Linked DNA regions of Homo sapiens. The protein of the gene in region 1 purifies or fractionates together with the protein of each later gene. This does not show direct contact. Each region holds a gene or a part of one and is shown in the gene's direction. Other genes may lie near its edges.

What was found.
Region 2: the proteins of ARHGEF1 (region 1) and LMNB2 purify together in Homo sapiens (affinity purification with mass spectrometry; 2 studies listed by BioGRID, with this or other methods). This does not show direct contact.

What each region holds. Positions count from the first base shown.
Region 1 is NC_000019.10:41,884,335-41,895,907, forward strand, and holds part of ARHGEF1 (rho guanine nucleotide exchange factor 1), read left to right. Parts: exon of another isoform or gene 1-133; coding exon of another isoform or gene 134-159; intron 160-3,729; coding exon of another isoform or gene 3,730-3,748; coding exon 3,749-3,772; intron 3,773-3,857; coding exon 3,858-3,944; intron 3,945-4,417; coding exon 4,418-4,531; intron 4,532-7,690; coding exon 7,691-7,789; intron 7,790-7,996; coding exon 7,997-8,039; intron 8,040-8,268; coding exon 8,269-8,515; intron 8,516-8,939; coding exon 8,940-8,969; intron 8,970-9,872; coding exon 9,873-9,972; intron 9,973-10,116; coding exon 10,117-10,213; intron 10,214-10,291; coding exon 10,292-10,327; intron 10,328-11,014; coding exon 11,015-11,152; intron 11,153-11,573. UniProt on the Homo sapiens protein: Seems to play a role in the regulation of RhoA GTPase by guanine nucleotide-binding alpha-12 (GNA12) and alpha-13 (GNA13) subunits. Acts as a GTPase-activating protein (GAP) for GNA12 and GNA13, and as guanine nucleotide exchange factor (GEF) for RhoA GTPase.
Region 2 is NC_000019.10:2,445,531-2,457,103, reverse strand, and holds the start of LMNB2 (lamin-B2), read left to right. Parts: upstream 1-144; 5' UTR 145-170; coding exon 171-434; intron 435-11,573. UniProt on the Homo sapiens protein: Lamins are intermediate filament proteins that assemble into a filamentous meshwork, and which constitute the major components of the nuclear lamina, a fibrous layer on the nucleoplasmic side of the inner nuclear membrane.

The sequences.
Region 1 (11,573 bases):
GCCGGGCTAGAGCGGCTGGCAGGAGGAGTGGAGCTGGGCGCAAAGGTGGACTCAGGGCGGCTAGAGCGACGCGGCGGCAGGGGTGGGGAGAGTGCGGAGCCCGAGCGCGGAGGCTTCGGTTCCGGTGGCGGCGATGGCTTCTCTTTCCACCTGGAGCAGGTGAGGGACGCGGTCCCCAGCGGGTGTCAGACCCTGACTCTGCACGTCCTCCCCGGCATCCCTGGCCGTGCACACTGCCACGTCCCCCGTAGGATTTAGGGCCCGCGTAAGACCCGCCACGTCCATGTAAGATTTGGGTCTCGTGTAGACCCGCCTCATTCCGTATAAAGTCTTACAGACCCTCCAGGTTCCTGCCAGCCCCCCATGGAGAACTGGCTTCTTATAGACGTGGGGTCCTCATAGACCAGTGGCATCCCCTAGAATCCGGGGCTCTATAGACCATGGGTCTCGGGACCCACCACGCACCCCTATGGAATTCTGAGTCCCTTTTAAGTCTCCAGAGGTTCCACAGACTGGCAGCTGTCCCTATAGAATCATGATCCTGTATGATCCCTGGATCCTTTAGACCCACTGTGTGTCAAATAGAATCTGGGGAGTTACACATTCCAACGACTCTTTTAGGTTCTTTAAGGCTCCAGAAGTTCTTGGAGACCCTGAGTCACCTGCTCAACACATTATAGACCCTGAGACCTCCATAGAACTCAACACCCATGTGGCCCCCCAACCCATGGACCTTCTAAACCAGCCCTAACCCCCCAGCGCCCCATGCACGCAGTGTTCCCTCTGCTGGACCCCCCAGGCCTTGTCAGTTGCCTATAGATCCATCTATTCTCTGACAGCTTCACCTATAATTCTCCAGCCTTTGTGGGACTCCCCCAAACCCCTCCTCCTAAACAGGCGACACTCCTCGCCTCCATCATCTCCAACCCCCAAGCCTCTGTGGAGCAGCCGTATCCAACTTGCACTCCTGCCTAGGCCATAGTGACCACATACCCGTGACTTTTCCAGGCATCCATAAGAAGACATGATGTGTCTCAGAGCTTTGGTTCAGATTTTAGTTTCTGAAGGGTAGGGTGGGGGCTCCCCATGCTCTGAAGCAATGCTCTCTGTTTTATTTTGTTTTATTTATTTATTTATTTATTTTTGAGACGAAGTCTCACTTCTGTTACCAGGCTGGAGTGCAGTGGCGCGATCTCAGCTCACTGCAACCTCCGCCTCCCGGATTCAAGCGATTCTCCTGCCTCAGCCTCCCGAGTAGCTGGGACTACAGGCTCGTGCCACCACGCCCAGCTAATTTTGGTATTTTTAGTAGAGACAGGGTTTCACTATGTTGGCCAGGATGGTGTCGATCTCTTGACTTCGTGATCCGCCCGCCTTGGTCTCCCAAAGTGCTGGGATTACAGGCGAGAGCCACCGTGCCTAGCCTATTTTATTTTAAGACAAGGTCTCACTCTGTCGCCCAGGCTGGAGGGCAGTGGCACAATTTTGGCTCACTGCAACCTCTGCCTCCTGGGCTCAGGCGATCCTCTCATCTTAGCCTCCCAAGTAGCTATGACTACAGGCATGAACCACCACACCTGGCTATCTTTTGTAGAGATGGGGGTTTCACCATGTTAGCCAGGCTGGTCTCGAACTCCTGAGCTCAAGTGATCCACCTGCCTTGGTCTCCCAAAGTGCTGGGATTACAGGTGTGAGCCACTGTGTCCACCAAATGCAGTTTATTTTAAATGCGTAAACTCTGTAGCCCAACTGCCCAGGTCTGAGTCCTGGTTCTGCCTCTTATGAGCTGTGCCTCAGTTTCCTTCTTTGTTAAATGGAGGTGAGAATAATAATGATCTCTTGGAGTCACCGAGAGGATTAAATGAGTTATTACCTGTCAACCAGCGATGCCATGCCTGGCACATACTAAGTGTCTCTTTTGTGTCAGCTGTCATTTCATTATTATTGTGATAAGGAATAAGGAGATAAGAACTTGGCAAGTGCACAGTTCCAGACCTGGCACCAAGCACTTGCAAAGATAATGAGTATCCCCTCCTTTGCCTTTTTAAAATTTCCCTGCCTCAGTTGAGCGTTTCTACCTCTGAGTGGGATGAGCATGCACCCTCCACGTCCGTGGTCATGTTTCATAGTGAGACAGGGTCTCACTGTGTTCCCCAGGCTGGTCTCAAACTCCTGAGCTCAAGCGATCTTCCCACCTTGGCCTCCCAAAGTGCTGGGGTTACAGGCATGAACCACCTCACCTGGCCAGTTTGCAAATTTATTAAAGTGAATGTTTAACAGTACTTGAATCTTGAATTGCCCAAGCTTAGATATTGGACAATACACTTTGTGGGAAATAATAAAAATGATGCCTTCCCCAGGTGGACCCACAGGGTGGCATTTGGACACTCCAGAAAGCATCATTGTTTAATCATCAAAATCCTGGTTACCATTTACTGGGGAGCTAGGGAGGAGGCCCATAAAGCAGGAGAAGGGCGGGTCTCTGCTGGCTTGGGTTATAAATAGCTTTGGGCTGTGGGGAGCCCCGCCGCTGGTCCACCCCACCCCTCTTTCCACAGCTCCTTCCCACCTGACACGGGCTCCGTGGCATTAGTCAGACTAATTAAGGACACAGAAGATGTCGGTGGAAAGACTCAGAGAGAAGTGGAGACTCAAGGAGAGACAAAGATGGGAGAGACAGCAAGAGATGGGGGAGAAAAAGGGATGGAGAGATGAGAGACAGCACATGAGACTGTGACTCAGAGAGGTGTGAGGATGGTGGCTGCAGAAACCAGATGTGGGAGGACAGAGGCACAGAGACAGGGACAGGACAGACGGAGCTACAGAAGCAGGAAGGGGGTGTCACCGCTGAGAGGGAGAGATGGAGGGAGGAGAGGCAGGGATGGTGGGGAAAATGAGACAGTTCTGGAGGAAGGGAAAGAGAAAAATCAGGAAACAGGGTGAAAAGAGACCAAGACATGAGACAGATTCAAGGGACAGACAGCCAAGGAGAGCTGGCTGCGGACAGACCAAGGCGCACGTAGGGTGGAGGGGACAGACGCACCTTGGAGATGGGCTGTCTGAGGCCCCATCACTTGGTTTCTGGGACTGGAAGCCTGGGAAGAGATGAGGTCCCTGGGGGAAAGAAGAACTTCTGGGTTTGGGGACTCCCAGTCCCTGAGGGAGGAGGGTTCTGAGTTTTGTTTTCTTATGTGGAGAGTTGGGGGTTGGGGGTTTGCCATTGTGACTTCCTGTCACAGGAAGTGGGGCTGGTGGGTTCCAAGGCAACATCCTGTCCCAGGCCTGTCACAGACCAGAGGAGACCCCTGCACCCCACTTCTCTCCCGCCTCTCCTCTAACCCTCCCATCCCCTCTTGCCTCTGGGCTGTGCCCTCAGGAATTAGCCCCCAGGCCCCTGGTCCCTCCAACCTGGGAGTCCAGGCCCCCAGCCCCCTCTTCCATTAGGGCATTAGGGACCCCAGATTGCAGGCTGTCAGACTCAGCCTTCCCATGGACCCAGGCTCCTGAGCCTCCAACGCCTGCCCCCGCAAGGCTCCCGTCCCTGGGCTCCCGCCCCCTGGCGGGTCTCTGAAGGGCTCTTTGTGGCCACACAGAGGCCCCATTGAGCTGCGGAGGCTGGGATGGGGGAGGCTGTTTACTCACCTTCACACCTGGGCCAGGAATCTGTGAGTAACCACCCTGGGCCGCCTCCTCCCACCCTCCTAACCACAGCCCCTCCTCTTCCTCCAGCCCTGCAGAGCCCAGGGAGATGGAAGACTTCGCCCGAGGGGCGGTGAGTGGACAGAGCAAGGGGTGAGGCGACTCTGGGGCTGTGGGTGGAGAGTCCTGTGGACTGAAGCTGCCCTCCCTTTCCACAGGCCTCCCCAGGCCCCTCCCGGCCTGGCCTGGTTCCCGTCAGCATCATCGGGGCTGAGGATGAGGATTTTGAGAACGAGCTGGAGACAGTGAGTGGGAGATAGGGTGGAAAAGCTCTGTCCCAGGCTCAGTGTCCCGCCCCAGGTCCCCTCCCACCTGCAGATGCTGTCTTCTTGGCCTTTTCCCACGGTCTGTCTCATCCTCTCATCTCCCTGGTACCTCCTTCCTCACCTCGCCGACCCCACACAGCAGCATAGACGCCCACCCTTCTTACTCTTAACCCCATTTCTTATCGTTGCTCTCTCCTCCCCCAGCATGGACCCCAATTTCTTCTCTCCTAATTTCTGTCCTCATCATCCACCATTATAATATTAAGTCTCATCCATTCTCCCTGAACACCTGCCCTTGCTGTCACCATCATTTTTTGGACACTGTCACCACTCCCCACTTCCCAGGAGCTAACCCTGGCTTGGATCCCTTGTGAAGTGCCAGGAATGGGTAGGGTCAACCCTAAGGCCCCTCCTCTTCTCCCCATTGTACTCACCCCTTCCTGCACCCCCAGAACTCAGAAGAGCAAAACAGCCAGTTCCAGAGCCTGGAGCAGGTGAAGCGGCGCCCAGCCCACCTCATGGCCCTCCTGCAGCACGTGGCCCTGCAGTTTGAGCCAGGACCCCTGGTGAGGGCAGGGCTGGGTGGGCACAGGGAGGGGTGGGGCTGGGACAGGCACAGCTTTTAGCGAATTAAACCAGCGAGCTAGTGCCTGGAGGGTCTGGAAAAGCAGATCTAGAACACAGAGAGCCAGATCTAGAAAGAGAGAATGCTTTAGACAAGAGCCAGAAAGCATGCCACGTGACCTCAACAGGCTTACAAGTGCCCAGGGTAGATCTCAGTGCGCAGCGGGCAGGGTACACACGTCAGGACCCCGCGGAGCCACAGAGAGTCCAGCAGCCTGGCAGAAACCACATCCCATCCCACTCTGTGCCTGTGGCAGCGCCCCCATCAGCCTGTGGCAGCACCTTTCCGTGAACTCTAGGGGACCAAATTCTTCTCTCCAAAGCCTTTTTGGCAGATGCCAGCACGCAGTCATTCACGGTTGATGGTTGGGAAAAAGAAGCTGTTAGCCATCCCAGGTCTAGGGAGCACAGCAGGCCCTGATCTGGAAACAAGAAAACCACCACACACAGCTCACAAGGCAGACCACACAATTGTGGATCCAGAAGCCTCCGGATGAGGCAGAAGATACCTGGGAGATGTGGATGGACAACCGTGCCATCCAGAAACACCCGCAGAGTCTAGAAAACCCAGCAGGTGATTTAGAAAGGGAGAGGCCACAGTGCTGGCTGGCAGGGGATCTGTAGACAAGGGTCTCATCCCAAGAAGACCCCGTCCAGCCCAGCACAGGATAGGAGGACAGCCTGGGGACAGCCAGGGCACTGCACCATGTGGACATGCATAGTGGACCCCTCCAGAAAACAAGGAAACCGATAGAGTGGGGAGAAGTGCCCGAGGCATGCAGAAAGAAGAACATGTCAGCTGCAAGACCAGAGGCTGGTCATCCGGACGCCAAACCATCAGATATGCAGAAAATTAGGAAATTGCAGTCTTTCCCCTGTCTACATTCTCTTTCCAGAAGAGTGGTTCCCCCGACAACCACATGCACGGAGACTCTGGCCCTCTGAGCAAGGGAGTCCCCTATTCAAGCCTTGGGGTTTCTAGAACACCAGATTGTGGACATCAGCCCAGGGATCGTGCTGACTACCATGTTCTTTTACAGATGTGGAAACCGAGGCCTAGAGAGGGTCAGGGACTTGCCTGAGGTGACCCCGGCGGCCTCTGGGCATTTTGAGGTTTATTCTCGCATAGCTCCCTCACCTCATCAGCTTGTGGGGAGCCGATCAGAGATAGCTGTGGTCCCCTGGGCAGCTTCCTGTTGGCCTGTCTTAGAATTTTGCTATATTTGGGGGGTGTGAAGAGTGGATATAGATGTGTTAAAACTGTTTAAAGTGGAGAAGGAGGACCGGGCCTGGTGGTTCATGACTGTAGTCCCAACGCTTTGGGAGGCTGAGGCAGGAGGATAGCTTGAGCCTGGGAGGTTGAGGCTGCAGTGATTGCACCACTGCACTCCAGCCTGGGCGACAAGAGTGAAACCCTGTCTTGAAAAAAAAAAAAAAGTGGGGCCGGGCATGGTGGCTCACACCTATAATCCCAGAACTTTGGAGGCTGAGGTGGGTAGATCACTTGAGATCAAGAGTTCGAGACCAGCGTGGCCAACATGGTAAAACCCCGTCTCTACTAAAAATATGAAAATTGGCCAGGCGCAGTGACTCACGCATATAATCCCAGCACTTTGGGAGGCTGAGGCAGGTGGATCACCCGACGTCAGGAGTTCAAGACCAGCCTGGCCAACATGGTGAAATCCCATCTCTACTAAAATAGAAAAATTAGCCAGGCACAGTGGTACACACCTGTAATTCCAGCTACTCGGGAGGCTGAGGCAGGAGACTCACTTGAACCTGGGAGGTGGTGGTTGCAATGAGCCGAGATTGCACCATTGCACTCCAGCCTAGGCGGAAAAAAAAAAAAAAAATTAGCCAGGCCTGGTGGTAGGCACCTGTAATCCAAGCTACTCCAGAGGCTGAGGCAGGAGAATCGCTTGAACCCAGGAGGAGGTTGCAGTGAGCCGAGATCACGCCACTGCACTCCAGCCTGGGTGACAGAGCGAGACTCCATCTCAAAAAAGAAAAAGGAGAAAAAGTCCCACTCCCATTGGAGTGAGTTCATTTCCCAGATGAGAGCCCCCAGGAGCCAGGACAGGTTGGAGTCCCCACTGTCACCCAGAACAGGGGCGGGCACTCAGGAAATGCTTGACGAATGACAGAGTGAGCCCCACTTGTCCACCTGTTCTTTCCAAGCCCTCAGTATGCACAAGGCACCACCATCTGGGACACAGATGGATCAACCTACAACACCCCTCAACACACACAAACCCTTAAGCTGCTCACAGTCTTTCCAGGCAGTGGAGTGTAGTAGAGACAGGCTGCCTGGATTCGAATCCTAACTTTGCCACTTAGTAGCTATGTGATTTTGGGTTTTATTTATTTATTTATTTATGAAACAGTCTCGCTCTGTGTCACCCAGGCTGGAGTGCAGTGGCACAATCTCCACTCACTGCAACCTCCATCTCCTGGGTTCAAGCAGTTCTCCCTGCCTCAGCCTCCCGAGTAGCTGGGATCACAGGTGCCCACCACCACACCCGACTAATTTTTTTATTTTTAGTAGAGACAGGGTTTCGCCATGTTGGCCTGGCCGGTCACAAATTCCTGACCTCATGTGATCCACCTGCCTTGGCCTCCCAAAGTGCTGGGATTACAGGTGTGAGCCACTGTGCCTAGCCTAGTTGTGCGACTAAGCTTGACTAAACTTCTTGAGCTCCGTTTTCTCATCTGTAAAATGGGGATAATGACGGTCCCTATGATTGAACACGTTAATGCATGTAGAGGGTGTAGAGCCGTGTCTGGTATACACTAAGCCGTCAGTATAGACAGTAGTAGTAGTTGTTGTCATTATTGCCGGGAGGAGACCATGATGAAGAACCACAAAGGACCATAGCACAGGATGGAAAATTAGAAAATGCTCATGGCAGCCCCAGGGAGCCTGCAGGGGAACCCAGGGCCTGGCTTTAGGGGTGGAGGTCAGGGAGTGCTTCCCAGAGGAAGTGGCAGTTGAGTCCCACAGCCATAGGATGGCCAGGAGGTGAGGAAGGCCCTTTTCAAAGGGAGAGTGTGGTTTGAGGCAGGGTGAGGGAGCGGAGAGTCATGCTGTGTGTCTCCCCCAGCTTTGCTGTCTGCATGCCGACATGCTGGGCTCACTGGGCCCCAAGGAGGCCAAGAAGGCCTTCCTGGACTTCTACCACAGCTTCCTGGAGAAGACAGCGGTGAGAGACCTTCAAGCTGCCCCAACCCTGCAATCCCTGTTTGGGCCTGCAGAGTCACCATGCGGTCCCCAGCCTCTGCCCTGAGGGCAGCTGCTGACCCAGGCCTTCCCCAGCACCCTCGCTTAGACCAGGGTTCCTGGCAGTCCTCCCGGCCTGCATCTCAGCACACCAAGTCCTCCTCTTCACCCCATTCTCTCTCTTGAGCAGGTTCTCCGGGTGCCGGTCCCTCCCAACGTCGCCTTTGAACTTGGTAAGGAGAAGGATGGGATGAGGGAGAGGTGTCTAGCGGGGACCACACCTCCCAGGAGGCCAAGGGGAGGGAGGCCGCACTCCCATGCTCTGCTCGGACAGCCGAGATTCATTCATTCCTTCTTGGCAGCGGCCTCAGGACGTGTGGCTGTTGGAGTCCAAGGGTGGGTGGGGACCGTGGTCCAAGCCACCAGGGAGCTGGACCCTAGCCCCCATGTGTGTCCCTGCAGACCGCACTAGGGCTGACCTCATCTCCGAGGATGTCCAGCGGCGGTTCGTGCAGGAGGTGGTGCAAAGCCAGCAGGTAGCCGTGGGCCGGCAGCTGGAGGACTTCCGTTCCAAGCGGCTCATGGGCATGACGCCCTGGGAGCAGGAGCTGGCCCAGCTGGAGGCTTGGGTTGGGCGGGACCGAGCCAGCTACGAGGCCCGGGAGCGGCACGTGGCGGAGCGGCTGCTCATGCACCTGGAGGAGATGCAGTGAGTAGGCCAGCCCTGGTGGGAGCGTCGCCCCTCCCCAGCACAAGGGCACCCGTGCTACCTCTGGCATGTTCCATCCCGTTTGCAGGTTCCCTCTTCAGGGTCAGAGTTCATTTCTTGGCACTGGGGGTCTTCCTCTACCCTGGTGTTTTAACTCACCTTGAATCCGAGTCTTCCCTTTCCAGCTTTGGGGTTCCCTTGTCATTTCTGGGTCTTGTCCATGATCTGGCACTTGGATCCCATCCTCCTGGATGAGAGACCTCCCTCCCTCTTATGACAGTCCTTCCCAATCCCTTCCACAGTGTCCCCTCTCTGTCTCTCTTCCCCCTGCCTATCCCAGGACAGCAACCCTGAGATGTATCCTGGGTGGATGGGGACCCCAGGCCTAGCAAATATGTCACAAACATCTCTCTTCCTCCTACAGACATACCATCTCTACCGACGAAGAAAAGAGGTGAGGGGGGCAGGGGAGGCGTGCGGCCTCCTGGGTTTGAGGGAGGAGGGGGCTGAGGGCCTGGACTCCTGGGTCTGAGGGAGGAGGAGGCTGGGGGGCCTGGACGCCTGGGTCTGAGGGAGGAGGGGGCTGGGGGGCCTAGACGCCTGGGTCTGAGGGAGGAGGGGGCTGGGGGGCCTGGACGCCTGGGTCTGAGGGAGGAGGGGGCTGGGGGGCCTGGACGCCTGGGTCTGAGGGAGGAGGGGGCTGGGGTCCTGGACGCCTGGGTCTGAGGGAGGAGGGGGCTGGGGGCCTGGACGCCTGGGTCTGAGGGAGGAGGGGGCTGGGGGCCTGGACTCCTGGGTCTGAGGGAGGAGGAGGCTGGGGGCCTGGACTCCTGGGTCTGAGGGAGGAAGGGGCTGGGGGGCCTGGACGTCTGGGTCTGAGGGAGGAGGGGGCTGGGGGGCCTGGACGCCTGGGTCTGAGGGAGGAGGGGGCTGGGGGGTCTGGACTCCTGGGTCTGAGGGAGGAGGGGGCTGGGGGCCTGGACTCCTGGGTCTGAGGGAGGAAGGGGCTGGGGGCCTGGACTCCTGGGTCTGAGGGAGGAGGGGGCTGGGGGCCTGGACTCCTGGGTCTGAGGGAGGAGGGGGCTGGGGGCCTGGACTCCTGGGTCTGAGGGAGGAGGAGCCTGGGGCCTGGACACTTGGGTCCTGGGCATTGGGTAACAGCCCTTGCCCCTGTCCTTTTGAACCCTCTCATCTCTCCTCAGAGTCTCACAGGAAGTAGTTGTGGGGTCAGGATGGGAAGGCCGGGCCTCTGCCTCTAGGGGGAGAGAGAGAGAGTGTGTGTGTGAGTGTGTGTGTGTGTGTGTGTGTGTGTGTGTGTCTTTGTGTGTGTTGAGCCCTCACTGTCCCTTCCCTACAGTGCTGCCGTGGTCAACGCCATTGGCCTGTACATGCGCCACCTTGGGGTGCGGACCAAGAGTGGAGACAAGAAGTCGGGGAGGAACTTCTTCCGGAAAAAGGTGCTTCCCTCAGTGCCCCGTCCTGACCCTTTCCTCTCCAGAGACGCCCTGGGAGCCTCATGACTCTGGATACCTAGCGTCAAATTCTGCTTTGTTGTTGTCTCAGAGATGCTTAGCCTGGTCTTCCTCCCCGCCCTCTCACAGGTGATGGGGAACCGGCGGTCGGACGAGCCTGCCAAGACCAAGAAGGGGCTGAGCAGCATCCTGGATGCCGCCCGCTGGAACCGGGGAGAGCCCCAGGGTAAGGCGGCTCTGGCCTCTGCCCTCCCCTGTCTTCCCCAGCTGCTCCCACTCACTGTCTCATTCTCTCTCGTTTCAGTTCCAGATTTTCGACACCTCAAAGCAGAGGTTGATGGTAATGTACCTGTAGCCATAGCATCCATACTGGGGGCCTGTGTGGGAGAGGCTAGGACCTGGACGCCTGGGTCTGAGGGAGGAGGGGCTGGGACCTGGACGCCTGGTTCTGAGGGAGGAGGGGATGGGGGCCTGGACACCTGGGTCTGAGGGAGGAGGGGCTGGGGGAGCTCCTGGGTCTGAGGGAGGAAGGGCTGGGCCTGGACCCCTGGGTCTGAGGGAGGAGGGACTGGGCCTGGACCCCTGGCTCTGAGGGAGGAGGGGCTGGGGGAGCTCCTGGGTCTGAGGGAGGGAGGCCTGGGGCCTGGACCCCTGGGTCCGAGGTAGGAGGGATTGGGCCTGGACCCCTGGGTCTGAGGGAGGAGCGGCTCAGACTCGGACTCTTAGGTCTGAGGAGGAAGGGCTGGGCCTAGACCCCTGGGTCTGAGGGAGGAGGGGCTGGGGGAGTTCCTGGGTCTGAGGGAGGAAGGCCTGGGGCCTGGACCTCTGGGTCTGAGGGAGGAGGGGCTGGGGGCCTGGACTCCTGTGTCTGAGGGAGGAGGGGTTGAGGGCTCCTGGGTCTGAGGGAGGAAGGGGCTCCTTGTCATGGTGGGGAAGGGCCTGAGCACAGCCTCTTGCATCCCCTGGCGGTTGTGGATTTGAGTTACTGTTCTCTTATCTCCCTCTTTCTCCCTCACTGTCTCCCCAGCCGAGAAGCCAGGTGCTACAGACCGGAAGGGAGGCGTGGGGATGCCCTCTCGGGACCGGAATATCGGGGCTCCTGGGCAGGACACCCCTGGAGTCTCTCTGCACCCTCTGTCCCTGGACAGCCCAGACCGGGAACCAGGTGAGAGTTTCCTGGGCCAGGGCTCCATGAGGCCCGGCGATCCAGGGTGGGGGTGCTGCCTGCCCCCTTGGCACCCCCAGATAGAAGCCATTCCCCAGCAACACCTCCCCTTTGCTCTCAGCATCCACTTCTCCCTGCTCCTGGTCACCACTGTCATTCATAACTTTCCCCTTCCCTCAGTTTGCCCTTTCCACAGCTTTGCTCCCAGGCTCTGACCTCTCTGCTGGTGCTGCGTCTCCCACCCCCTTGGACTACGTTTTCCATCAACCCTTCCTTTTCCAGAACCTTCCCTGAGTACATGACCAGTCCACCCTCTGAGCTGCATTGCTGGCCCCCTAGGTGGGGAGCCCGCCAGCCCCATGAGCTTCATCCCTCACCATCCTTACACTGCTGTGGCCTCAGGCCCTTGGATCTCTGCATG
Region 2 (11,573 bases), about 39 Mb from region 1:
TGTCTCTGGAGTCAGCGCCTCTGCGAAGCGAGAGCTGGACGGAGACTTCAACTTCCGGCGTGCCCCGCGCGCGCCCGGCGGTCGGACTACCAGTCCCAGGCTGCCCCGCCGCGGCGGGCGGCGGGCGCGGCGCGGCGCGGCGCCATCTTGCAGCCGGCGGCGCGGATTGAATGAGCCCGCCGAGCCCGGGCCGCCGTCGGGAGCAGCGCAGGCCGCGAGCCGCCGCCACCATGGCCACGCCGCTGCCCGGCCGCGCGGGCGGGCCCGCCACGCCGCTGTCGCCCACGCGCCTGTCGCGGCTGCAGGAGAAGGAGGAGCTGCGCGAGCTCAACGACCGCCTGGCGCACTACATCGACCGCGTCCGCGCGCTGGAGCTGGAGAACGACCGGCTCCTGCTCAAGATCTCAGAGAAGGAGGAGGTGACCACGCGCGAGGTGGGCGCCGGGGCTTAGGGGCCGGGCGGGGGTGCAGCCGGCAGGCCCCGCCCACCGCGGGGCGCGCGATCGCGGGGACCCTGGGCGGGGGTGCAGACGGGGACGGGCCCCGGCTTCGGGGGTTTCCGCGGGGTTTCGGGGGGCCCCTGAGTGAGGGGTGCAGCTCGGCCAGGTCCCTCCCACCGCGGGGTGGGCAATCGCTGGGACCCTGGGTGCAGACAGGGACGGGCCCGGGTCTCGAGGGTCTCCAGGGGGTTTCGAGGGGCCCCTGAGTGAGCGGTGCAGTTCGGCCAGGCCCCGCCCACCGCGGGGTGCGTGATCGCGGGGACCCTGGGCGGGGGTGCAGACGGGGACAGGCTCCGGCTCGGGGGTCTCCAGGAGGTTTGGGGGCTTCTGAGTGAGGGGTGCTGCTCGGCTAGGCCCAGCCCACTGCGGGGCTCCCAGTCGCGGGGAACCCTGAGCTGGGATGCAGACGGGGACAGTCCGGCCTCGGGGATCTCCGCCGCGTTTCGGAGAGTCCCTGAGTGAAAGGTGCTACTCGGCCAGGCCCCGCCCACCACGGGGCGCGCGATCGCGGGGGACTCTGAACGACTCCCGGCTTGGGGTCTCCAGGGGGTTTGCGGGGGGCTCCTGGATGAAGGGTGCAGGTCCTGGCCACCGCGGGGTGCGCGATCGCGGGGACCCTGGGCAGGGGTGCAGACCGGGAAGGGTCCCGGCTTGGGGGTCTCCAGGGGGTTTCAAGGGGTCCCTGAGTGAGGGGTGCAGCTCGGCCAGGCCCAGCCCACCGCGGAGTACGCGATCACGGGGGACCCTGAGCAGGGGTGGGGTCAGCCTGGCCTCGGGGATCTCCAGGGGGAGACCCTGAGTGAGGGGTGCCACCTGGGCAGGCCCTGCCCACCGCAGTTTCCGAGATCTTGGGGGACCCCTTGGGAGGGGTGCAGACCGGAGTGGCCCATTCTCTTGGGGACCTCCAGGGGGTTTCTAGGGCACTGAGTGAAAAGTGCAGACCAGGAATGCCCCACCTATGGAGGGGGTCCCAGGAGATCTTCCGTGTCCTGAGTGAGGGCTGCAGAGGGGCCTCCAGCTAGCTCTGGGGACCCTTCCGTGAGAGGTGCATTTTGGGGCCATGGGGGTTACAGACTAGGGCTCCCCACCAAAGAGAGGTCCTGGGGATTTGGGGGCTCCCTGAGTATTGGGCTGCAGCCCCCCATATGCCTCGTCCCTCAGAGGATTCCAAGGAGACTTGGCGGACCCCCCCCAACTGAGGGGGTGTGAGTGGGAGTCTCTGGGGATGAAGCTGGGTATTGGGGTATCTGGGGTGGAATGGGGGTGGTCTCTGGGCTCCAAGGAGACTGGGGGGCCCAGGCCCTCTGAGGAGGCCCAAGATGGGGTGTGTGGGGGGTCTCCCTGGAGTCTCTGGGGTGAGTCACGTGGTCTCAGTTCTCCCTGGAGCTTTAGCGAGTTCCCTGATGAATCCAGAAGAGATTGGTGACTGGGGTGGGAATTAGGCCCCTCATCTCTCACCAGGCCCAGGGTGGGTAGGGGGCCGAGGGAGAGGTTCTGATACCTTGGGGTCCCACGGGAAATTTGGGAGTCCCTTATTTGTGCCCTGGTGTCAGCGGTGGTCTGGCAGGTTCTGCCCCCAAGAGAATATGAAGGAAGGGTGAGAGTTGGGATCTTGGGTCCGGTGGAAAGTGTTGAGGTTCTGAATGGGCCCCGAGGCTTCAGTGCAGACTGAAGGAGAAGAGGCGGGAAAGTCTGCCCACCAAGGGGACATGAGGTCGGGGTGTCTTGGGGTCTGGGTGCAATCTGTCCTGCCCCCCAACCTAACCCTGGGGAGGCTCTTTGTCCCTCCCACTGGCCATGCCCAATCCAAGGACAGGACTCCAGAACGGGGGGCAGGCAGGAGCACCCACTTGATTCCTGCCATGGGTTGGGGTCCTGGGGTCCCTAGGCCCCAGTGTCCTGTTGGGAGAGCTGGGTGCCGAAGTCGGGATTTGCAGCGCCCAGTCCCCACTCGCCCATCTGGAGATCAGAGGACGTGGTGGGCTTCTGGGAGAAGAGCTGCTTGTTGAGGGGGTCGGGTCATTTCTGGGAGCCACTTACCCTCTGTGTGACCTTGGGCTAGTCGCTTACCCTCTCTGGGTCTCAGTGCCCTCGCCTTTGGAATGGGTGTAATTATAATACCCACCTCTTACTTGTGTGTGGGGCCACAGCAGGTTAACTTTTGTTCAGTAGCTCCCTGTGGGTTGTTTTCACAGTGCCCTGGGGACAGGGAACCTGAAAGAATGTAGCTGGTGCCTTCAGGGAGGTAGAAGGAAGATCAGTGCTTGGTGGGATCCCCTGCTTTTCTTTCTTTTTTTTTTTTTTTTTTTTTGAGATAGAGTCTCGCTCCGTCGTCCAGGCTGGAGTGCAGTGGCGCGATCTTAGCTCCCCGCACCCTCTGCCTCCCGGGTTCAAGTGATTCTCCTGCCCCCGTCTCCCGAGTAGCTGGGATTACAGGTGTTCACCACCATGCCCGGCTCATTTTTGTATTTTTAGTAGAGACAGAGTTTGGCCTTGTTGGTCAGGCTGGTCTCAAACTCCTGGCCTCAGGTGATCTGCCTGCCTCGGCCTCCCAAAGTACTGGGATTACAGGTGTGAGCCGCCGTGCCTGGCCAGTCCCCTGCTTTTCAATTAGTGTGGCTTTGGGCAGGCCCCTGTGTCTCTTGGAGCCTCCATCTTGCCATCTGTCCAGTGCGGAGTTGTCCCAACTTAGAGGCCGCCTGCTGGACCCGTGGCGTGCAGGGTTAGAGCTGGTTTCTTGTCTTTGGGCCTCTGTTATCCCACCTGCCAATGGGACGAACAGCTGCAGGGAGCTTTGAGGGTGCAGGGCCTGGTGAGTGCTGGGGAGGTACCAGCCCCAGCCCCACTGGACGCCCCATTGGACCGGCCCTGTGCCCTAGAGGGAGCCTGGCCCAGCCACCTCTCGGGGCCGCAGCAGCATCCTTTACAACTCAGTTCACTCAGGCTGGGTGAAATGCGGGTCTGACTCCAGTGAAGGCAGCCATTTAGCAGGTGACACACTGGCCCCTCCGTGAGCCCTGTCACCCAGCCGTGTCTGCAGGGCATGTGGCAGGGGACAGCTGGGAGTTCCGCCTGCGACTAGTGGGCCAGGAACCCGGCTAGTGGGGAGCAGAGTTGGAAGCCTGCTGGGGTGGGGGCCGCTGGTGGGGGGACGTCATGTGGGCCCACATGGAGGGAGTGACCTGGAATAGCTGGGGGCCTTCTAGACACAGGTGGGCCACGTGGGGTTCAGAGAGCAGCCTCAGGCTCAGGCTGGCAGGATGGGGGCAGGGGAGGGAGCTCTGAACGAGGAGGGACCTGGGGTGTCAGGCCTAAGAGCATGCAGGTCACCTGGACAGCAGGGCCTCTCTCACCTGGCCAGCTTCTGCCCCCAGGGGACTCTTGGCCAAGGCTGGGCATGCCCTTGGTTGTCACATTGGGAGGGAGACGGCATCGGCACAGCGTGGGTGGAGGCTGGGTACTGCTCAGCGCCCCGAGAAGAGAATCACCTGGCCCCCACGAGGATGACGCAGCCCTCACGAGGATGACCCAGCCCCATGAGGATGACCCAGCCCCCACGAGGATGACCCAGCCCCCACGAGGATGACCCAGCCCCCATTAGGATGACCCAGCCCCCATTAGGATGACCCATCCCCCATTAGGATGACCCAGCCCCCATGAGGATGACGCAGCCCCCATGAGGATGACCCATCCCCCACGAGGATGACGCAGCCTCCATGAGGGTAACACGGCCCCCATGAGAATGGCCAGGCCGAGGAGCCTGCTGGGAGGCGTGAGGGACTCAGTTCAGATTTTTTCAGGCTCATAACACGACTCACAGCATCCTGGTGTGTGGCGGCCCCCGAGGTCCTCACACACGCCTTTCTCACTTCTTTTTTGAGATAGAGTCTCACTCTGTCGCCCAGGCTGGAGTGCAGTGGTGTGATCTCGGCTGACTGCAACCTCTGCCTCCCAGGTTCAAGCAATTCTCCTGCCTCACCCTCCTAAGTAGCTGGGATTACAGGCGTGTACCACCACACCCGGCTAATTTTTGTATTTTTAGTAGAGATGGGATTTCACCATGTTGGCCAGGATGGTCTCTATCTCTTGACCTTGTGATCTGCCCGCCTCAGCTTTCCAAAATGCTGGGATTGCAGGTGTGAGCCAGTATGCCTGGCCTTTTTTTTTTTCTAGACAGAGTCTCTCTCTGTCGCCCAGGCTGGTGTGCAGTGGCGTGATCTTGGCTCACTGCAACCTCTACCTCCTGGGTTCAAGGGCTTCTCGTGCCTCAGCCTTCTGAGTAGCTGGGATTACAGGCGCCCACCACCATGCCCGGCTAACTTGCTCACTTCTTTCCTGCCCGCAGGAGTTCACCCTTGCACACTCGTACAAAACCAGGCCAAGCATGGGTTCCACATTCCCATGTGACACTAGGGGGTGTCTTTTGGCGGTGTGGATGAATCGCCATATACAAGCATCGTTGGAGGGCTTGGGAAAGGGTGGGGTGGGGGCTGGCCAGATGGGTATTTGTTGAAGGAGGATCACTGAGTGCTGGGGGCGGGGGCAGGTGCAGGGAGGCCGCGCTGTGGCCCGTGTCCAGGCGCGGGAGAGGCAGGTACTCCAGGTACTTCCCTGCCAGGCCTTACGTTCCCGAGGGAGGAGACCTGGCTTCGGCATCTTCTGTCTTCCCCTGCCCCGGTGTCCCCTGGCTGCTCAGGGCTGCTGGAGGGGGTCTCGGAGGCGGCCCAGGCGAGCGTGGAGGATGGAGTCCACTTTGGAAGTGACCCCAAGCCGGTGTTTGCATTTTCTGCACAGGGCTGTAGTTCTTAGCCGGGCCATTTTGTCCCACCGTGGCCTCCTCCAGCCGAGTTATGCTGCTCTGTGTGTCCGAGGGGTCCCAGGCAAAGGCCATCTCAGGCTATCTGAGCCCTGCCAGGCCCACATGTGTGGACACACTTGTTGACTTCCCTCAAGCCTAGCACTTGCTAGATGCCGTGAAAGATGAAAGAAAAGGCCCAGCCTGTCCCCAGCCCTTTGCAGCGCCTCACAAGCACAAGGAGGCCGTCCTGCCCCGGCACACCCGTTCCGCAGGCTCAAAGGGTCTTTGTGAGGTGCCCCAGCCTCTAGAACTTTCCTCATCATCACAGCACGGCAGACCAGGCATGGTCAGCAGACTTTTTCTAAAAAAGGCCAGACTGTCTGCATCTGAACCACTCAGCTCTGCCATAGGATGAAAGCTGCCTTAGCCCATAGGTGAATAAGTGGGTGCTGCTATGTGTCAATAAAACTTTATTTATACACATGGAACTGTGAAGTGCATAGAATCTGCCTGTGTCACAAAGTCTCTTCATCTTCCCCCCTGGCCTTTATCGTTTTTGTTTTTGAGACAGTCTCGTTTTCCAGGCTGGAATGCAGTGGCACAATCTCCGCTCACTTCAACCTCTGCCTCCCGGATTCAGGCGATGAAGCGATTCTTGTGCCTCAGCCTCCCCAGTAGCTGGGATCACAGGTTTGCACTGCCACGCCCAGCTAATTTTTGTATTTTTAGCAGAGATGGGGTTTCACCATGCTGGTCAGGCTGGTCTCGAACTCCTGACCTCAGGGGATCTGCCAGCCTCTGCCTCCCAAAGTGCTGGGATTATAGGCATGAGCCACCTCTCCTGGCTACCCCTAGCCATTTAAAAATGTAAAAACCGTCTGGGCGCAGTGGCTCACACCTATAATCCCAGCACTTTGGGAGGCCGAGGTGGGCGGATCACGAGGTCAGGAGATTGAAACCAGCCTGGCCAACATGGTGAAGCCCCGTCTCTACTAAAAATACAAAAATTAGCTGGGCGTGGTGGTGCACGGCTATAGTCCCAGTTACTTGGGAGGCAGGAGAATCGCTTGAACCCGGGAAGCAGAGGTTGCTGTGAGCTCAGATCATGCCACTGCACTCCAGCCTGGGCAACAGAGTCTTGCCCTGTGCTCGCCCAGGCTGGAATGCAATGGTGCAATTTTTGTGTTTTTAGTAGAGATGGGGTTTCACCATGTTGACCAGACTGGTCTTAAATTCCTGACCTCAGGTGATCTGCCCGCCTCAGCCTCCCATCATCTTATGCCAGGTGCGGTGGCTCATGCCTGTAATCCCAGCACTTTGGAAGGCTGAGGCAGGCTGATCCTCCTGCCTCAGCCTCCCAAAGTTGTAGGACTGCAGCTGTGAGCCACTGCTCCCAGCAACATCCATCATGTATTCAGACTTCCTCAGTTTCCCCGATGTCCTTTCCTGCCCCAAGACCCCATCCACTATCTCACGTGACATTTAGTGACTACGTCACTGTCTCCCAGGCTCCTCCAGGCTGATAGTTTCCCCCACGTTCCTGGTTAGAGGTTCTGGTTGGTCCTGAGCGGGCTGGGCAGGTGTGCAGTAGGATGTTCCTCAATGGGGGTTTGTGTGTTGTTTTGCTCATCGTCACGCTGGGGCGATGGGATGAGTAATGTTTTAATGGAATATATATATATATGTGTATATATATATGTATATGTATATGTATTTTATTTTCTTTTTTTTGAGACGGAGTTTCACTCTGTTGCCCAGGCTGGAGTGCAGTGGCGTGATCTTGGCTCACCACAACCTCCGCCTCCCTGGTTCAAGCGATTCTCCTGCCTCAGCCTCCTGGGTAGCTGGGATTACAGGCATACACCACCATGCCCGGCTAATTCTGTATTTTTAGTAGAGACAGGGTTTCTCCATGTTGGTCAGGCTGGTCTCGAACTCCTGACCTCAGGTGATCCAACTGCCTTGGCCTCCCGAAGTGCTGGGATGACAGGCGTGAGCCACGGCGCCCAGACATATGTATATTTTTTTTGAGACAGGGTCTCTCTGTACCACCCAGGCTGCAGCGTAGTGGCGTGATCTCAGCTCACTGCAACCTCTGCCTCCCGGGTTCAAGTGATTCTCCTGTCTCAGCCTCCCGAGTAGCTGGGATTACAGGCGCCTACCACCACACCCAGCTAATTTGTGTTTTAATAGAGACAGGGTTTCACCATGTTGGCCAGGCTGGTCTCGAACTGCTGACCTCAAGTAATTCGCCCGCCTCAGCCTCCCAAAGTGCTGGGATTTCAGGCATGCACCAGCGCACCGGGCCCTAATGGATTATCTTTTAAAAATCAATTAATTCAAAAAATCTACAATGAACAAACTATTAATTCAAGTCAGGTGTCGTTTAGTGACAGGGATACCTTGTGGAAAGCGTGTCGTTAGGAGACGTGCCCCTTGTGTGGGCATGGTAGAGTGCACTCCCACACTCCCGGATGGTGGAAGCCACCACACACCCAGGCTTGGGCGTGGCCTCCTAGGCCACAGACCCACACCGCCCGCTCCTCTGTGGAATGCTGTGGGCACCGGTTACACAATGGTAAGTATGTGAGCATTTAAACACGAGAAAGGGCTGGGTGCGGTGGCTCCCGCCTATAATCCCAGTACTTTGGGAGGCTGGGGCAGGCAGATTGCTTGAGTCCAGGAGTTTGAGACCAGCCTGGGCAACATAGCAAGACCCCATCTCTTAAAAAAAAAGTTAGAAACTAATTAGGCAGGCATAGTAGTATGTGTGCCTATAGTCCCAGCTATTGGGGCAGCTGAGACAGGAGGATTGCTTGAGCCCAGAGTTTGAGGCTGCAGTGAGCTGTGATTGCGGCATTGCTCTCCAGGCTGGGTGTGGCTCTGTCTCAAAATAAGTAAATAAACACAAGAAAGGTGCAGTAAGAATATGGTATTAGATTCTTTTTCTTTTTATTTTTTGAAGTGGAGTCTGGCTGTCGCCAGGCTGGAGTGCAATGGCCCAATCTTGGCTCACAGCAACCCCTGCCTCCTGGGTTCAAGCAATTTTCCTGCCTCAGCCTCCTGAGTAGCTGGTATTACAGGTGCACGCCACCATGCCCGGCTAATTTTTTTGTATTTTTAGTAGAGACAGGGTTTCACCGTGTTAACAAGGATGGTCTTGATCTCCTAACCTCGTAATCCGCCCACCTCAGCCTCCCAAAGTGCTGGGATGACAGGGGTGAGCCCCCATGCCAGGTTTGCATTAGAGTCTTACAGGACCGCCGTGCACATGGTCTGGGGGTGCTCAGCATGCCTCTGTGCGTGTGGCTGCCATTGCAGAGTTGCTGTTTTTTCTCACCTTGAACGGGCTCCTGTGTGTCCCGGCGCTGATCTTGTCTTTGTTGGAAACTCTGCTGTTTTGTTCATCCTGGCCCCTCTGCCTCGTGAGCCGCAGTCAGCTCTCTCTCTGTGGGGACAGGAGAGCTCGTGTGTGACCCCCATCCTGAGGGTGTCCCGTCAGCCCCTCCCTTGAGGTTAGGGGTATTTGGGAGCTTTGAGGGAGAGGCAGACACCACCATGCCTGCACCTGGTGCCCAGCTGTTTGCAGCGTGGAGCTGGCCGCTTTTTCCTGATTTGGGTTTTTCTAGAAGTCTGTTCCCAGGACACAGATGTGGAGGGCACGGCCCAGATGATCGCCTGCATGGGAGGGAGGGCTTGGGGGTGGCCGGGGTGCCGCGGGAGGAGCTCGCTTTGCACTGCTGCCTCTGTGGGTCCCCGTCCTACAATTGGTCCCCGCAGACCTGATATGTCTAGGACCCAGCGGTGGTCAGGAGGCGGCTTTTTACTGACCCGTGCCTCAGTTTTCCCATACATAAAATCAGGTTGGGAACCCTTATCCCGCCCCACTGTAGGCTGACGGGACTTGGAGCTGCGGTGCTGGGGCAGCCTGAGACTCTGACTTGTCCAGATGGCCCAGCATGCGTTGGTTTGAGGCTGAGGGTCCCACCTCAGAAGAGGCCCGGTCACTGCCAAGGGGTGCGTCCTGGCAGGCCCCCAGCCCTCTGCACAGGAGCCTCGCCTGTAACATGGGGGTGTGGCCCTCCAGATGCAGGCCGACCCTGTACCCACCTTGCATAGACACCCTTGGCCCTGTAGGGCTGTGGGAACATCACGGCGTTCTAGCGGGTGGTGCTGGGCCTGGTTCCGCCTACCATCCTCCGGTCCTCCTTTTCCTCAGCGCCAGAGCCGGAGCAGTTAATTCCCGCCTCATAAGGTTCACCCAGCTCACCCGTAGGTTTCGCGTTTTCATATCTCCACAGCTGTGCCACCACCAATGTGTCCAATTTTAGAACGTTCATCCCCACTAAAAGAAGCCTGTCCCCCTCAGCGGTCACTCCCCGTCCCCTTCTCCAGCCCCGCTGCCCACACACCCGCTGCCTGTGTCTGTGCACTGGCCTGACCTGGACATTTCATGGAAATGGGATTACACACTGTGTGGCGTTTTGTGTCTGGCGTCTCATGAGTGTGACATCCTCAAGGGGCATCCACACTGTGGTGTCAGAACCTTGCTCCGTTACACAGCTGGGTCATGTTCCTGTGTGTGGATGGTGGAGGGACCGCATTGCTTTTATTTTTTTATTTATTTTTATTTTTCATTTTATTTATTTATTTATTTATTTTGAAACTGAGTCTCGCTCTGTCTCCCAGGCTGGAGGGCAGTGGTGCGATCTCGGCTCACTGCAAGTTCCACCTCCCGGGTTCATGCCATTCTCCTGCCTCAGCCTCCCAAGTAGCTGGGACCACAGGCGCCCACCACCACGCCTGGCTAATTTTTTGTATGTTTTTTTAGTAGAGACGGGGTTTCACTGTGTTAGCCAGGATGGTCTCGATCTCCTGACCTTGTGATCCGCCCGCCTCGGCTTCCCAAAGTGCTGGGATTACAGGTGTGAGCCACTGCGCCCGGCACCATGTGTAGTTTTCAAACATGCATGGATGTGAATTTCATGTCTTCTGGGTCCACACCCAGGAGTGGAGTTACCGGGTCACAGGGTGGCTCTGTGACTCTTGGGGGAGCCCCTGGACTGTTTTCTGTAGAGCTGTCTCAGCTCAGGTTCCTGCCGCTGCCTGTGAGGTTCCGATTTCTCTGCGTACTCGCCCGCACCTGCGACTGTCTGTCTTCTTGACGGACGCCCTGGCTGGTGCGAAGTGGCATCTCACTGCGGTTTGCTTCCACATATTTTTAAACTCACTGAGTGCATGGCCCTGTGGGAGGAGGGGAGGCAGGAAGGCCACTAGAAGCCTGAGCTGTGCCCCCAGCTGGCGCGTGCAGAGGCCGGGCAGGTGGCGGCTGTGGTTGCAGCAGGATTAGTAGGAAGTGAAGAGGTCGCCTTCCCTGGCACCGCATGTGCCTCGAGTTCACCTGGAGGCCCTCGAGAGGGGCGGGTTTGGGGGCTTTGCGCGGGGCTTAGGGAGGGGCTTTCTTTAGCTGGGCGGCCCAGAGGGTGTTCCAGTCGCTTCTGCCTGCCCTGGTGACCCCTGGCTCTCCAGCCCCTCCCCATGTCCTTGCTGGCTGGGCTGGGTCTCCGTCGGGAAAGGTGGGGGCCGCTGGTGGGGTGGGGAGCTGGAGACTCTGACTACAGATCCCTGTGATCGAGGGGTGAAAGGTGGGGGTGACTGGTGGGGGGGGCAGCTGGGGACTGACTACAGATCCCTGTGATCGAGGGGTGAAAGGTGGGGGCGGCTGGTGGGGTGGGGAGTTGGGGACTCTGACTACAGATCCCTGTGATTGAGGGGTGAAAGGTGGGGGCAGCTGGTGGGGTGGGGAGTTGGGGACTCTGACTACAGATCCCTGTGATCGACGGGTGAAAGGTGGGGGCGGCTGGTTGGGGGGGGCAGCTGGGGACTGACTACAGATCCCTGTGATCGAGGGGTGAAAGGTGGGGGCGGCTGGTGGGGTGGGGAGTTGGGGACTCTGACTACAGATCGCTGTGATCGAGGGGTGAAAGGTGGGGGCCGCTGGTGGGGTGGGGAGCTGGGGACTCTGACTGCAGATCCCTGTGATCGAGGGGTGAAACGTGGGGGCCGCTGGTGGGGTGGGGAGCTGGGGACTCTGACTGCAGATCCCTGTGATCGAGGGGTGAAAGGTGGGGGCCGCTGGTGGGGTAGGGAGCTGGGGACTCTGACTGCAGATCCCTGTGATCGAGGGGTGAAAGGTGGGGGCCGCTGGTGGGGTGGGGAGTTGGGGACTCTGACTACAGATCCCTGTGATCGAGGGGTGAAAGGTGGGGGCCGCT